2 linked regions of the Homo sapiens genome follow. The protein of the gene in region 1 interacts with the protein of each later gene in a biochemical or structural test. Each region holds a gene or a part of one and is shown on either strand. Other genes may lie near its edges.

Region 1 (7,070 bases):
AAATTTGGCAACTAGTGGAAGGAAGAGACACAAGCCCATGCAGCATCTTGCACACTGCAAACACTGCAAGCCAGCCCCTATTCAGGACCCGTTAGACACTGCGAGGCATCCCCCTAGTTGGGCAGGTACCCTTGCCTGTCCTTCCTCCACCCTTTCTCCAAAATGGTCCTGAACTGAGACCTGCAGCTGCTCCCATCCTATGCCTTCACACAGTATTTTCTCTACAGCCCTATCAAGTCATAATTATCCAGGTTCCTGACACTAAAAACTAGTTTCAGAAATAAATAGCTGCTAAAATCAATTCAAACATAAATAGCTAATCTTTATGGAGCACTTACTATGTACAGGCACTGTTGGGTGCACTTTCCACGTGTTAGCTTATGTAATACCCACAGGAAAGCCAGTGTGAGGAAGACGCATTGTCAGGCCAGGAAAGGTTTTGAACCTCAAGCAAAACCTGGAGAGGTATGCCAGGAATGAGGCACAATCTCTCCCTTTAATGAGCTCACTACCTTGTATGGAAATGAGGACCTAACTCAGAGTTCAGAGTAAGTAAAAAAGCCACAAAGTAGACATTAAAGGAGCCCAAAGGAGGAAGAATTTGTGCATCCTAGCAGGATTCTGGAGGGCTTCTTGGAGGAGGTATCCCAGTGGAGAATGAAGTCATAAATACAAGGAGCTTTCCATAGCTAAGTGTCAGCTCCTCAGCTCCCAAAGCTGCTAAAAGGCCAGGCGAGTCGGCCGCCCCCTCCTCCATTTCATCTGGAGCACGCCTGTTTCCAAGAGAGGACCAGCTAGGCCCAGCCCTTCCTTTGACACATTCCTCCAGCTGCTGCCTGTCCTTATGGAAACACATGGGAACTTTTCACCATGTTCAACTTCACGACTTCCTTCGGTGCTTTCACTGGGGAGAACCTGCGTCATGGCACTTGCTTGCACAAGGGAGCCCTTTAAGGGCCTCAGCTGGTCTCCATTGGGTTGACATGAGGACAGCCCCTTGTCTGTACCAAAGTGAGATGTAAGGGACCTACATCACCAGCAGCCAGCAAATGCATCTTTTAAAAGGCCTCTACAGATTTCTGAGAGAGGAATTTGCTTCCACTCCCTCCTCAGGAATCAGCCCCTTCAGTGCGGTAGGGTCATCCCCCCACTCCTTCCTCCTCCATACTTAAGGCTCTGCAGCAAGGGCTCAAACCCTCGCTTTTGGCAACTGTGTGACCTTGAGCAAGTCACTTAACCAGTATCAATCCCAGTTTCCTTATCTCTAATTTGGGGTATATAAATAAGAACAACTCGTTCTTAGAACTGTTGTGAATCGGAGTGAGATAGTGCAAGTAAAGTATTTTACACAGAGCCGGGCATGTAGTAAACCAACAATGAATAGTAGCTTCATTTTCATCATCAATAATGACGATGATGGTGGTGGTGGGAGGGTAAACTTGGACCCGATTCGAGCTAAAAGCAAGCACCCCTTCCCCCTCTCCCCCTCCCAAGTGTATGGCTGAGCCACACGGTGGAGACACATGCGTCATCCGGCTGAGGGGTGAATGCAGGCTCTTCTGGCGGCGGGCTCAGGAACCGCCAGGCAGTGGTGTCCTAGCTCACCTGGAGGGGTCGCGGGGTGAAGCAGATTTTCTGATGGGGGAGGTCCAATAAACTACAGACCCTCTCTTTCTGTATACCCACTCAGCAGGTATGGAAACTGACTCGTGGCCAAAGAACGCCAGCTGCATCCCTCCCCCAAGGAGCCAGGACAGCGTCCACCATGCCCCTGACTCAGTTCCCCAACTCTCTCTCGGGTGCAGGCGAGACTGCGCTGCACTTAGTGGCGGAGATAACAGGTTGGCCAGCCAGGCCTGAGAAACGTCCCCCCGCTACCTTGCGCAAACCCAGCCCCCTCTTCGAAACGCAGGTGGGCAAACAACCCTCAACCTCGCAACAACTTTGTGTATTTCACCGCCACCACAGGGCGCACGGCCTCAACTTCTCTTCACTGCGCTCCGAGGAGGGAAGCAGGAAATCGAGAATAAGGGGCAGCCCACAGACCACCCTCCTTTTCTCGGGGCGCCCCCCAAAGGCGCGCCCTGCCTTACCTTGTCTGACGGCCTTGAAGGTGACGGCCTCCTTGCAGCTGTCGATGACCCCCAGCACGTCATAGCGGGGCAAGCCGGACACCCGGACCCCCTGCACCTCCAGAAGCAGCTCCCCTTCGCCCAGCCTCGGGCCCTCGCCGCCGCCGGGAAGCCCCGCTGCCTCGACCGCCGCCACCGCTCCGACGTACGGAAACTCCCCGTGCTCCGCGCCTCCCAGCACCGTCACCCCCAGCTCGCCCTGGGGTCCCCGCTTCACGGTGCATTCGTGAACCCTGCTAGTCCAGTGGTTCTTCTTCTGGATCACTTTGGACATGATGAGTTACACCCCTCCTCCAAAAAAATAAAACGAGAGACAGGTGCCCCCCACAGCACGAGCCCCCAAGCCTCCGCTTGTTCATGGGAGAAACATCTCTCCCCAAATCACAAAACAGGAGAGAGAAACTTGGCAGCCTCGCTCCCCTGCACACGCTCGCGCACTCAAGCCATCATAAAACAAACTTTCTGGGCTTCCCCGCGAGCCCCGCACAGGCGCCCGCGAGCTTTGTTTGCATTCCGGTGCCTCTGGGTCCACGTTCCGGCGCCCGCCCGTGCTCTCCCGGACCAGAGTCCACTCTGCGCCGCTCGGGTTATTTTTTTTTCCTTCCTTCCTTTCTCTCTTGCCTTTTACAAATGCGGTGCCTCCTCTTTGCCTCCCGCCCGGCTCGCCTCTCCTCGCTGGCAGGCTGTTACTGAGGGTGAGGGAAGCCCTTCCAGCCAGTTGCCGGGAGCCCTGAAGACGCGGTGGCGGGGCGGCGGGGAGCAGGGCGGGAGGTAAGTGCTCGCGGCCCCTTTAAGCAGATACAAAGGCTCGGCTTGTTTTGTTACAGTTCATTCTATTCCGCGCCGCGGAGCGCAGCGGCCGGCGACAGGAGACGCGCGCGCATGCGCCCCGCGGCCGCCAGCCGGCCGGCCCACCCCTCCCCTCCTCCCCGAAGGGAGAGATTCCAACGTGCTTCCCGATGGGTCCTAAAACCGACCTGCCGGGAGAAGGCAACTCCCCCCCAACCCTTCCTGAACCCCTATCCTCTCTCCTTTTCTTTCAGTGCCCTGGACTCCGCGGATTCCTTTGGGGCTGGAGGGCCGCACACGTGTTTTACTCCAACTGTTTGCAACTTTTGAAACCCGGGCAATCTGGCTTTGGCATTTGAAAACCATTTCAAACAGGTGGGGGTTGGGGAGGCTGCCACACTCACCCTGGCGCTCACACTCACGCACACGCGCACGCACTCGCGCCGGCCCTAAGCCTCCTAACCGCCCTCGGCCAGTGGCTGGCCAGGCTGTCGGTCACCCAGCCCGGCTGGTTCGCCGCCCCCCTTGCCGCAGGTCCCACTGAAACCCCCGAGACCCGCCCCGGGGCGCTCGCCGCCTCCCTGCCTGCCCTGCGCTTGCGGGTTCGGGTCCTGGCGCGGGGTCTGCCAGGGTCTCTGCGACCCGGGGGAGGGGGACGGTGGGATCCTCCGGTTCCCCAACTGGGATCCCTGTGCGGGTCACACGCGCTCTTACACACACCCGCATCCTTAAACTTTGGGACCAACTTTTTAGGACACGGGAAACTACAGGCAAGAGAGAGAAGCCATGGTGCTAGTGTGGGTTCAGGTATTCAACCAAAAAAGAGATCCCTCTAGCTTTTCAACTGCCCTGCCAGCAGAGACTGCTGGACCCAGTCAATCATCTGCCCCGGCCTCAAGTTCCTGGCAGGGCCGAGAAGCCTGCGGACCTACTCCGGGGCCAGGAGATAAGGATCCCCGCCGGGCGCGGACATGCCCTGCGTCCTGGCGCCCGCGGGGGCGTGAGAGAACTCGGAATTCGCAGCCCGGGGGTAGCTGCGGCCTCCGGAGGTCGCCCGGGGGTGCGGATGGAGTGACTTCTGTCCCGGCGAGGTGGCGGACAGAAAGACTCCCATACCACAGGAAGGCTGCCCTTCCCAAATACTCCTCAAATCAGGCTGCTGAGTAGTCTCCCCAGCAGTTTGTTTTCCTCTTTAGTGATGTATAATTTTGTTCATCTTTGGTCACAGGAGAGATTCCAAGAAATGAGGGGGGTACGTTGAAACGATGAAGAAAGGATGGACACAGCAGTCGAGGTTGAGAGGTAGGCTCAGGGGTCCACCCTTGTGTGACCTTGAGCAAGCTTGGTGACCTCCGCGCCTCCGTTTCTCGCTGATCAAATAAGTAGAACAAGACCTCACAGGGTTCTTGGAAGTATTACGTGGGAAAACACTTATAAAGTGGCAAATAATAAAAACTCATTATATTCTTAATAGTAGTATTACTATTTGGGAAGAAAATTGGGAAATCATTTGGGGATTCAAGTTAGTAAGTATGATAATTTATCCTCTCCTTTCTAGAACTTAGAAAATATGGGCATACTTTGTGTGTTTGTTTTTTGATGGTGGTGGTGGTGTTTTTAGAAACGTGGTCTTGCTTTGTCCCCAAGCTGGAGTGCAGTAGCTCGACTAGCTGATTGTAACCTCGAACTTCTGGACTCAAGCAATCCTACCACCTCAGCCTCCTGAGTATCTGGAATTATAGGCACATGCCACCATGCCCAGCTAGTTTTATTTTTTTGATTTTTTGTAGACATGGGGGGGTCTCCCTATGTTGATTGCCCAGGCTGGTCTCAAACTCCTGGGCTCAAGCCAACCTCCTGACTCAGCTTCCCAAAGTGCTGGGGTTATAGATGTGAGCCACCATACCTGGTTTAGGCATACGTTTAAACATCCTTTTAAAGCATTGTAGGGTGCTATTCTAAGCTAATAAAAGTAAGGAGGGATGTTGATGCTTCTCTCTTGGGATATCCAGAACTGAAAATCCCATTGCATTGTTGTGTTTCTGAAAAAAGGAGGTGACCAATTTTCCATGGCTTTGCTTGGTGAGAGGAACTTTGTCTCCAGCTTTTTTTCAGAAGCAATCTAGGTCAATATGAACAGCACTTCAAAACATAAATTATCAAACCCGAGCACAGATCCAGCCAATCAGAATGTCAAGGAAGGGCTAAGTCATTTGAACTTTTAAGGTTCCCCTTATGTGTTGTTGGTACACAACGCTGAGCACCATAGGTTTAGTATCTTGATTCCAAAGCATTGTTTGGGTCCCAGACCTTTTTGTCAAATAAACCTGTGATCCACATCTCTGTGTAAAATAAAAACTCAAGGAGGTCAGGACACTTTGACAGTTTGGTTTACTGATGTATTATTCCCAGTTCCTAGAATGGTGCCTCGTACTAGCAAATGCTAAAATATTTGTCAAATGACTCTTTCCACAAAAATGTACATTTTTACTTTCCATGTTAGTGGGGAGTCACAGATTCCCCTGCAAATCATTAGTAAGCTTAGTAAGCTTAGCCTTGTGTGTTTCCCCACTTTGCCACTTCATATTCTAGTAAAGTGTAATTGTTTGCTAAGAATACCCACAACCAACCTTGAATTAGGAGTCCCCTACCTCTCCACTCAACTCTCACCTCTGCCTGGGGGAGTCCAAGGGCTGGACAAGACCAGGCGTTTTGTGATTCCTCCCAATGCAACAACATCCCCCTCTTGCCAGGATTCCAGGTGTCACCACAGCAGCTGAGAAAGGAAAGAACTTGGAATTTAGCATACGTCAGGTTTTAGATGTGGAAAAGCCCCAAAAGAAGGAGTAGTACCTGTGGGCACAGAGGGCAATATGGAGAGAATAGACATTATTCTAATTCAGGAAAAGGAAAAATAATTTGAACCTTCAAAGTAGCCAAGGCTGCCAGTTTCCAGGATGCTCCCTCTGCATCTTCCCGGCTGGTGTTTCACCTGGTCTAGTTCCTGTGTCCCAGACTGGAGAAGTTCAAGGCAGAGATCATCTCTCTCCTATCCAACCTTTGAAACCTCAATACCAAAAACCATGAACCATGCCTTGTGTGGAGTGTGCACCATACACAGTTGTTGAGTGAATTGATGAAGTGTGACATGAAATTGTTGAATAAATGGATGAAGTATGACATGAAATTGTGTAATATGTGACCTTTGATCCAAAGCCAGTTTAGATTTGGTTGCCAAAACAGGGGTATTTATATTAGGTTGGTGCAAGAGTAATTGCAGGTTTTGCCATTACTTTCAATGAAAAGAGCTTATAGTTATGTCATTGTGAAGTAGATTTTTCCTGAATAGATCTAAGATCCTAGTATTCTGACTTGTCTCACTTTAGCTATGAATTTGGCAATACATTCTGTTGGGAGAAATAATGCTATAAAATACCTAACTTTCAAGCTTACTGTATATGTCAGCGTAGTGATGTGAGTTGGGGGTTTTTTTGTTTGGTTTTTGTTTGTTTGTTTGTTTGTTTGTTTTGAGACAAACTCTCACTCTGTCATCCAGGCTGGAGTGCAGTGGTGCCGTCTCGGCACACTGCAACCTCAGCCTCCTGGGTTTAAGTGATTCTCACGCCTCAACCTCCCAAGTAGCTGGGATTGCAGGAGTACACCACCATGCCCAGCTAATTTTTGCTTTTTTAGTAGAGACAGGGTTTTGCCATGTTGGCCAGGCTGGTCTCAAACTCCTGACCTCAGGTGATCCACCTACCTCGGCCTCCCAAAGTGTTGGGATTACAGGCGTGAGCCATCGCGCCCAGCTGATGTGAGTTATTTTATGCAATCACCACAGTTGTGTAAGGTAGGAACTATCAGGAATGACCTTGATTTTATAACTGAGGAAAATGAAGCTAAGAAAGTGAAGAAACTTGCCCCAGAGCTTACAAGTAACAAAACCAGGAAGTGAACCCGGAGGCATGACCCAAAACCCATGCTCAGAACACTGTAGTCTGAGAGGATAGGATGTGGCCATTTAGCATATTTGGGTAACAGCATGCTCTGGACTCTTGAATCTGCTACATAGTGTATACACAGTAATTAAGTCCCCCTCCTTTCTGTCTCTTCACTTTAAGCTAAAGGATACAGTGTTTCACTCCAGAA
Region 2 (6,882 bases), on another chromosome or scaffold:
GGACCAATTCCTCACACAGTAGTTAGTTGCACCAGAGTATAAATACTTGGTAAAACACACAAGAGGAAGTAGAATTTACACACAAGTGCTAACTTTCACCAGCAAATTCACGTGGGCACTTGGACATAAAAAAAAATAAAAAATCCTTAAGATAATTATATTTATAATATGGATACAGTTACAGTACCATGATAAAGGAGTATAAAAAGGTATTTTCCCAATGAATCATTAGCTCAATAACATACTAGACAACAGAAGTAGAGTTTGAATTTTATTTAAGATCTGCCCAGCCCCTCTCCCTTTAAAAAATATTTAATTTCTTTTTGTGCAAGTAACATCTTCTGTGGATTTTGTAATTCCTAACACTGTGCAAAAATGGCATTTTGAACCACTCCTTTTTTTTGTTTTTGTTTTTATCCACATGTGCAGTAATCTGAACTGTTTCTCTCTCTCGCTCTCTTTTAATGTCCTGTCTTCAATTGACAGAGTCACATGTCACAGAGAGAGGCTCTGCGCCTGGTCCTTCCAACTAATATTGATACATAAATAAGCTGTTTAATATAAACAAGTCTTTCTATCTGCTGTGCAAATGCACAGTGTGAGGTAGAAATCCCTCAGCCTGACCACCCAGGCGCGCGGGGGACAGCGGGTTTGCCCTACACAAGGAAAGCAAGGTGGGGCTTGTTCCAAGAAGAGCTTAACATTTCTTGAAACGTGATTTTTTTTTATTTTGCCTCCATCCTTTCTCTTTGCTTTCATAACAGCAGAAATCATTACTTAGAAATTAAAATGAAATTTCTCTGGAAAGCAAAAGGAAATATGTCTTGACAAACTGTCATTCTCCTCTCTCTGGCTGGTAGTGTGTTCCTGTTCCCGGGAAAGGGATGGGAGCCACGATGATCGATTTTAATCCCCTCCTAATGCTTCTCCCTTCCCCTAACCCACCCATCTTCCACTCCGGTCCTCTCAGAGAGTGTCAAAAACCACCTGGTGGGGGAAAAAAATCTAAAGATGCATCACACGCACACACAAAAGAAGGCCGGACCACAAACAGAAAAAAAAAAAAAAAAAAAAAAGAAGAAGAAAGAAAAGAAAAGAAAAAAAAAACAACAAGGAACATCAGCAAGCCACTCTCCCATCCCTTCCCAAACTTTCCTTTTTGTGCAACGGTCCGTGGCTTTTCTCTTTGCCTCGGATGATTCAGACGAGGATTGTGGGCTTCGAGTTCACCTGCTATCGGTCTTAAGTAAACACAGATCTCCTCGTTCCCCTGGGAAGCCGTGCCCGGAGTCCGCGCCCCGCGCCGGGCCCTACACCTTGGATTCCGAGGCGAAGCCGGGGCGGCACGGCTCGTCCAGGCTCGAGTCGCTGTCCGCCGCCGCCCCGCCGTTGCAGCCGGCCCAGGGCTCCAGCAGGCGCGCGGGCGGCGTGGCCCCGACGACATCGTCGTCGTCGTCGTCCGAGGCGGCCCCGGGCGATGGCGGGGGTCCGGGCCGGGCCAGACAGCCCGAGGCGCGCGGCCGGTCTCCGTGGGTCGCGTGGCGCCGGCGGGCAGCCCTGCGCGCGCAGCAGAGCAGTCCCTGGAAGGCCTTGCGGAAGTCGGGGCTGCGGCAGTAGATGATGGGGTTGAAGGCCGAGTTGGCGTAGCCCAGCCAGTTGAAGAAGACGAAGAGGCGGTCGGGCACCAGCTCGCGGTGGAAGGCCTTCACCACGTTGGCCAGGAAGAAGGGCAGCCAGCAGAGCGTGAAGACGCCCATGATGATGCCCAGCGTCTTGAGCGCCTTCTGCTCGCGCAGGGCCACGAGGCGCGAGGGCCGCCGCTTACCCGCACGCCCGTTGGCCAGCGGGGCGGTGGCGGCGGCGGCGGCGGGGCGCGGGGGTCCGGGCGGCGGCGCGGGCGCGGGGACGGGCGAGGGCGAGGGCGAGGGCGGCCGCGCTGGGCCGCCGAGGAAACGGCGCTCGCAGCTGTCGATCTTCTTCACCTGCTTCTGGGCCTCGCGGAACACCCGCAGGTACACGAAGGCCATGATGCACAGGGGCACGTAGAAGGAGACTACGGACGAGGCGATGGCGTAGGCCCGGTTGGTGACGAAGTCGCAGCACTTGGGGTCGTTGTAGCAGCGGCGCGCCTCGTCGCTCTCCGCCCGCCACCAGTGCATGAGGATGGGCAGGAAGGACACCAGGGCCGAGATGGCCCACACGGTGCACACGAGGCCCCGCGCCCGCGCGCGCGTCAGCAGGCTCTGGTAGCGGAAGGGCGAGGTGATGGCGAGGTAGCGGTCCAGGGCAATGACACACAGGGTCTCGATGCTGGCCGTCACGCACAGCACGTCCACTGAGGTCCACAGCTCGCAGAAGAAGGAGCCGTACTCCCAGCGGCCCCACACCACGATGGTGGCCCCGAACGGCACCACCAGCAGCCCCATGACCAGGTCGGCGCTGGCCAGGGACATGATGAAGAGGTTGGTGAGCGTCTGCAGCCGCGGCGTCTTGGCGATGGCCACGATCACCAGCACATTGCCCGCCACGATGAGCAGCACGATGAGCGCCATCAGCAGACCCATGCCCGCTGTCCACTGCTGAGACAGCGGCTCGGGGCTTTCGCTGGCGGGAGGCAGCAACGAGGCGGGCGGCGACGCGGGCACCAGCAGCCGCGCCGCGGTGGCCGCGCCGTCGGGGAGCGGTGCGGCCGACGACAGGTTACCGGGCTCGGAGGCGCCCAGGACGAGCACCCCCGCGCCCATGCCGAGCTGCGGAGGCCGGGGGCGGGGGGTGTGGCAGGGCTGGGCCGTGGTTGGGGAACACCCCAGAAGCCCGGGCGGCGTGGTGCGCAGAGGGAGGTCGCGGCCGGGTCAGGGCAGCCGCGGCGCGGGGCCGGAGGCATGGGCGCCGGGCGCCTTTCCCGCAGGAGCCGAGCGCTGTCGCTGCCGCTGCCGCCGCCGCCGCCGCCGCCGCTGCTGCTGGAGCCGCTGCCGCTGCTGGAAGAGCCGCCGGGACTTCAGCATGTTTCTGAGCGCGCCGGGCCCGCAGCTCCGGCACCCAGCACCCACCCCACCCCGCTCCCACTCCCCAAGCCAACCCCCGGGGCCTCGCGTCAGGCTCCTGCAGCCAATCCGGGCAAAGGCACGCCCCCGTCTGGTCTGCACCCCCACCTCCAACTCCCCGCACCCCCCTCCCGTTGGCAATTGAGCGGCTCCTGAGAGTCCCGAGCTGATCGCGTAGCTAGTGCCTCCCGTGCGCCCGCGGGTTCCTGCGGACGCACCCCTTCCTGCGCCCGCTGGTTCCTGGTCCCTGTTCCCCCGCGCCCCCTTCCGCGCCTGGCTCCCCCCGGGGCCCCGTCCCCTCCCTCAGCCCCCACTCGCTCCCGCACCCACTCCTGCGCCCCGTTTGCCTCCCGCACCCGCTCCTGCGCCCCGTTTGCCTCCCGCACCCGCTCCTGCGCCCCGTTTGCCTCCAGCACTCGGCTCCCTCCTGCGCCCCCGCTCCCCCCGCATCCCCTCGACCTGCAGTTCCGGGGTTCTCTGCGGAACAGAGCGCTAGCTCCCTTGAGCGGGGAGGGGACCTTGGTGTTCAGGAAGCGCCAGAGCGCCTGGGACAGCTTGTCCGCCAGGCTTGGAGGAGTTTGCCCTGCGAGCTTGGTTGTGATGTGGGGCAGCCTAGCAGGGTGTGTGTAAAACCCTTCCCCCGTCAAGACGGGACCCAGCCAGCATGCGTCGTGACAGCTTGGGGGATTGGAGGTGGGTGTTAGTGGTTAGAAGAAACTTCCCAGCAGAGCGGGTTGCTGGAGCCAAGCGCGCATCTGTCAAGAATGCTCTCTGGGCGCTGTTCTTGCAAGGATCCTCTGTTGAACCTCGAGTGCAGTAGATGTGGAAAGGAAGCGAAGGTTTGTGCATCTAACAGCTAACGCTGAGGGCCCTTTGGAATCGTACACACTCCTCAGTCCTAGCTAATGAACGTGTGAGCATGATGCAAAAATGTATGCTCATGATATGAAAGGAGAGGCTTAGGGAGACAGAAACGTTGAGATACAGAGTAAACGATACCACCGCGAGGGGGAAAAAACGCGTTTAATTACATTTTAGACTTTTCAATGATAACACCTGTATTTTGTGTTTTATTACTCATGTGATTTTATAATTTGAGCTGGGTCAATACAAACAAAAAGGTACTGTCAGTTTATGCTGACGTAATGAACTGCGATTTCAGATTCCTTGGTCTGCGTGCTTGTTTTCTCCTTTGCCCAAGTTCCCAGATTCTCAAAACTCTGAGATTAGTTTTGAAGGGATGAGACAAGAAAACATATAAATACTCCAGAGGATTAAAATCCAAAAGCATTTAAAGTTGTATCTGTGGTTTTTTTTTTTTTTTTTTTTGAGTTGGCAAATGAATTGCTTTGAAATTAGTGAGTTGTTAACCTGGCAAAAAGGATTATACTGGGGGTGAGGGGACAAGAAAGCCATGAATATGCAATATGGCAGGACTGCAAGCCCCTTCTCTAATTTGGCTCCTGTAGTGTCCTCAGCTCAGGCCTGAAATAAAAAAAAAAATAAAAAAATTAAAAAAATCTCTAATTGAGTCCTTGAGGAGTAAACAGCTTCTAATTGTTTATGTAAGGGTGCATGAAAATGTTATATAATGCTCACAGGTCCTTCTAGCATTGGAATAAGAACAGCGCCCGTAACGAACATCATGTTCGTTGATGGTCATCAATATGACCAAGCTCATATCCTTACCTTGCAAGGAGAGACCGACTTCCACAGCTGTCCAGGTCAAAAGCAAAAAGTAATGTTTTTCAAGTTTATATAAAATCAAGCAGTTTTAACCACTTTCTCTTACATAAATGCAAACATATGAATTTGCTTTAGGCCCAAACCTCAGCATCAGTATGTTAAAACTGGGGAGTGATTTGTTTATTCACCCCCTGCCCATGATTTATCAGCTGATTTTCCAACTTGGGGAGGTTGAGGAGGAGTGGCCAGGAAACAAGAGGCGTTAGAAAGGGGAGGAAGGAGACTACACCCCAAGTTATCCAAGTCACTGAAAGCCTGAGACTCCTGGCTTCTTTCTTTTTATTTTTTTGAGACAGAGTTTCACTTTTGTTGCCCAGGCTGGAGTTCAGTGGCGTGATCTTGGCCCACTGCAACCTCTGCCTCCCGGGTTCAAGTGATTCTCCTGCCTCAGCCTGTCAAGTAGCTGGGATTACAGGCGTGTGCCGCCACACACGGCTAATTTTGTATTTTTAGTGGAGATGGCGTTTTACCATGTTGGTCAGGCTGGTCTCGAACTCCTGACCTCAGGTGATCCACCCACCTTGGCCTCCCAAAGTGCTGGGATTAGAGGCATGAGCCACTGTCCCCGGCCTCCTGGCTTCCTTCTGGACCCACAAGGGGCAGTCTCAAAATAGCCAAGGGATTGGAAGAAGTTGAAATTGACGCTGCCCAGGAAAGGAGTTCTGAGTGCTGAGCTGCAGGGTGAGGCATAGGGAATGTGGGGAAGAGGCTTTTCCTTGCCATCTTTCTGTCAAGTGGTGTTACCGGAATAGAGTGTGTCAACCTTAAATGCCCCCGAAGGGTGGAAGGCATTGCTTTTCTGTGTGCGATAAGGCCAGAACTTGGTCGTAGAGGTTCAGGGCAGAAGCCAGATTGCCAGTAACTTTGCCGTATCATCATTATATATATAAACACATCGTGACATTGGAATTGTTGGAAAACTTTCCTGAAACTTTTTTTCTCTGCTCATTCAGAGATACATCAAGTTTCTCCGAATTTCTGTATAATACATTAAATTATAAACCCTCGAAACCAGAAGGTTATTCTAGCAGGAGTACCAGTACAGGGATCTCAGGAATTCTGGGGGATTTCCTTCAATTTTACTGACAGAAGAGTTTGGAATAGTACATGTTCAACTAGAGTTGGTTGTCTAATAAAAATAAAATGTTCTCAGAACTCCTTTAATTCCTACATTTTATGATTGGTGTTTTTTTTTTTTAACTTTTTTTTTAGCCTAACACTTTTTATTCTTAGGTAAGGATACAAGATCAAGAAGAAAAGGTTCAACGTATCAACTTTTACAGGTATCGGATATTGTAAGTTAAATAAAACTCCTTCATTTCTTCATTCTTCACTTGGCAACTGTTAAAGAGAGTCAGTTCTAAAAACCCATATATTTCACAATGCTTTGGAAAATGACAGAAAGCTCCAACAATGAGGGCTGATCAGCACACTTGAGAGGTCGTGCACTTCTTCCACAGAGTTCCTATCTCAACTTCTTCCTTTCCCATCCCCCCACCTTCACCCCACACCGGGACTTGCCATGGGTTCTATTTGATCTCCCTGTCTCTGGTCCTCCCTGCTCCATTTAATCTGGCATATCATAACCAAAGGAGTATTTCCAAAATGCTGCTTTGACCAAGATGCTTTTCTGTTCAGCAACCTTACCTCTTCAATTTAACATTCACAGTTCTCCCCGGTCCAATTCTAAATGGCCTTTCCAGCCCTATTTCATATTAGAACTCTCCTTATCACCATAACTTGCATTTCTGTATTCTTTTTCCTTTTGGGGATCCATACTCCTTCCTTTTGTACATCTATACTTTCTCACTGGGTTCCCTCCACCAAAACCTCCTCCTGCTTCCCAGCGAATTCAGCCTTGGAGATGTGGCTGGACTCTTTATCTTCTCTGCCCACTGCTTCTGAAAATGATCTCTCCTTCCTCTGACCTATAGTAGTGACTCTGCCAATTTCATTTCAGGTGGCAATTTACAATAGGTTGCCTTTTGATACTTCTTATGTTGTTATTTAATTTTTATATTTTCCCCTTTTCTTCTCTTATAGATTGTAAGCTCACTGAGAGCCAGAATTGTCTCATACATTTTTATATCTC

The links.
Region 2: the proteins of MAGI1 (region 1) and ADRB1 interact in a test that uses a peptide from one of them, tested with the Homo sapiens proteins (2 studies listed by IntAct).

Annotation. Positions count from the first base shown.
Region 1 is NC_000003.12:66,035,903-66,042,972, forward strand, and holds the start of MAGI1 (membrane-associated guanylate kinase, WW and PDZ domain-containing protein 1), read right to left. Parts: upstream 3,017-7,070; 5' UTR 2,407-3,016; coding exon 2,094-2,406; intron 1-2,093. UniProt on the Homo sapiens protein: Plays a role in coupling actin fibers to cell junctions in endothelial cells, via its interaction with AMOTL2 and CDH5. May regulate acid-induced ASIC3 currents by modulating its expression at the cell surface.
Region 2 is NC_000010.11:114,039,995-114,046,876, reverse strand, and holds the start of ADRB1 (beta-1 adrenergic receptor), read right to left. Parts: upstream 3,012-6,882; 5' UTR 2,745-3,011; coding exon 1,311-2,744; 3' UTR 1-1,310. UniProt on the Homo sapiens protein: Beta-adrenergic receptors mediate the catecholamine-induced activation of adenylate cyclase through the action of G proteins. This receptor binds epinephrine and norepinephrine with approximately equal affinity.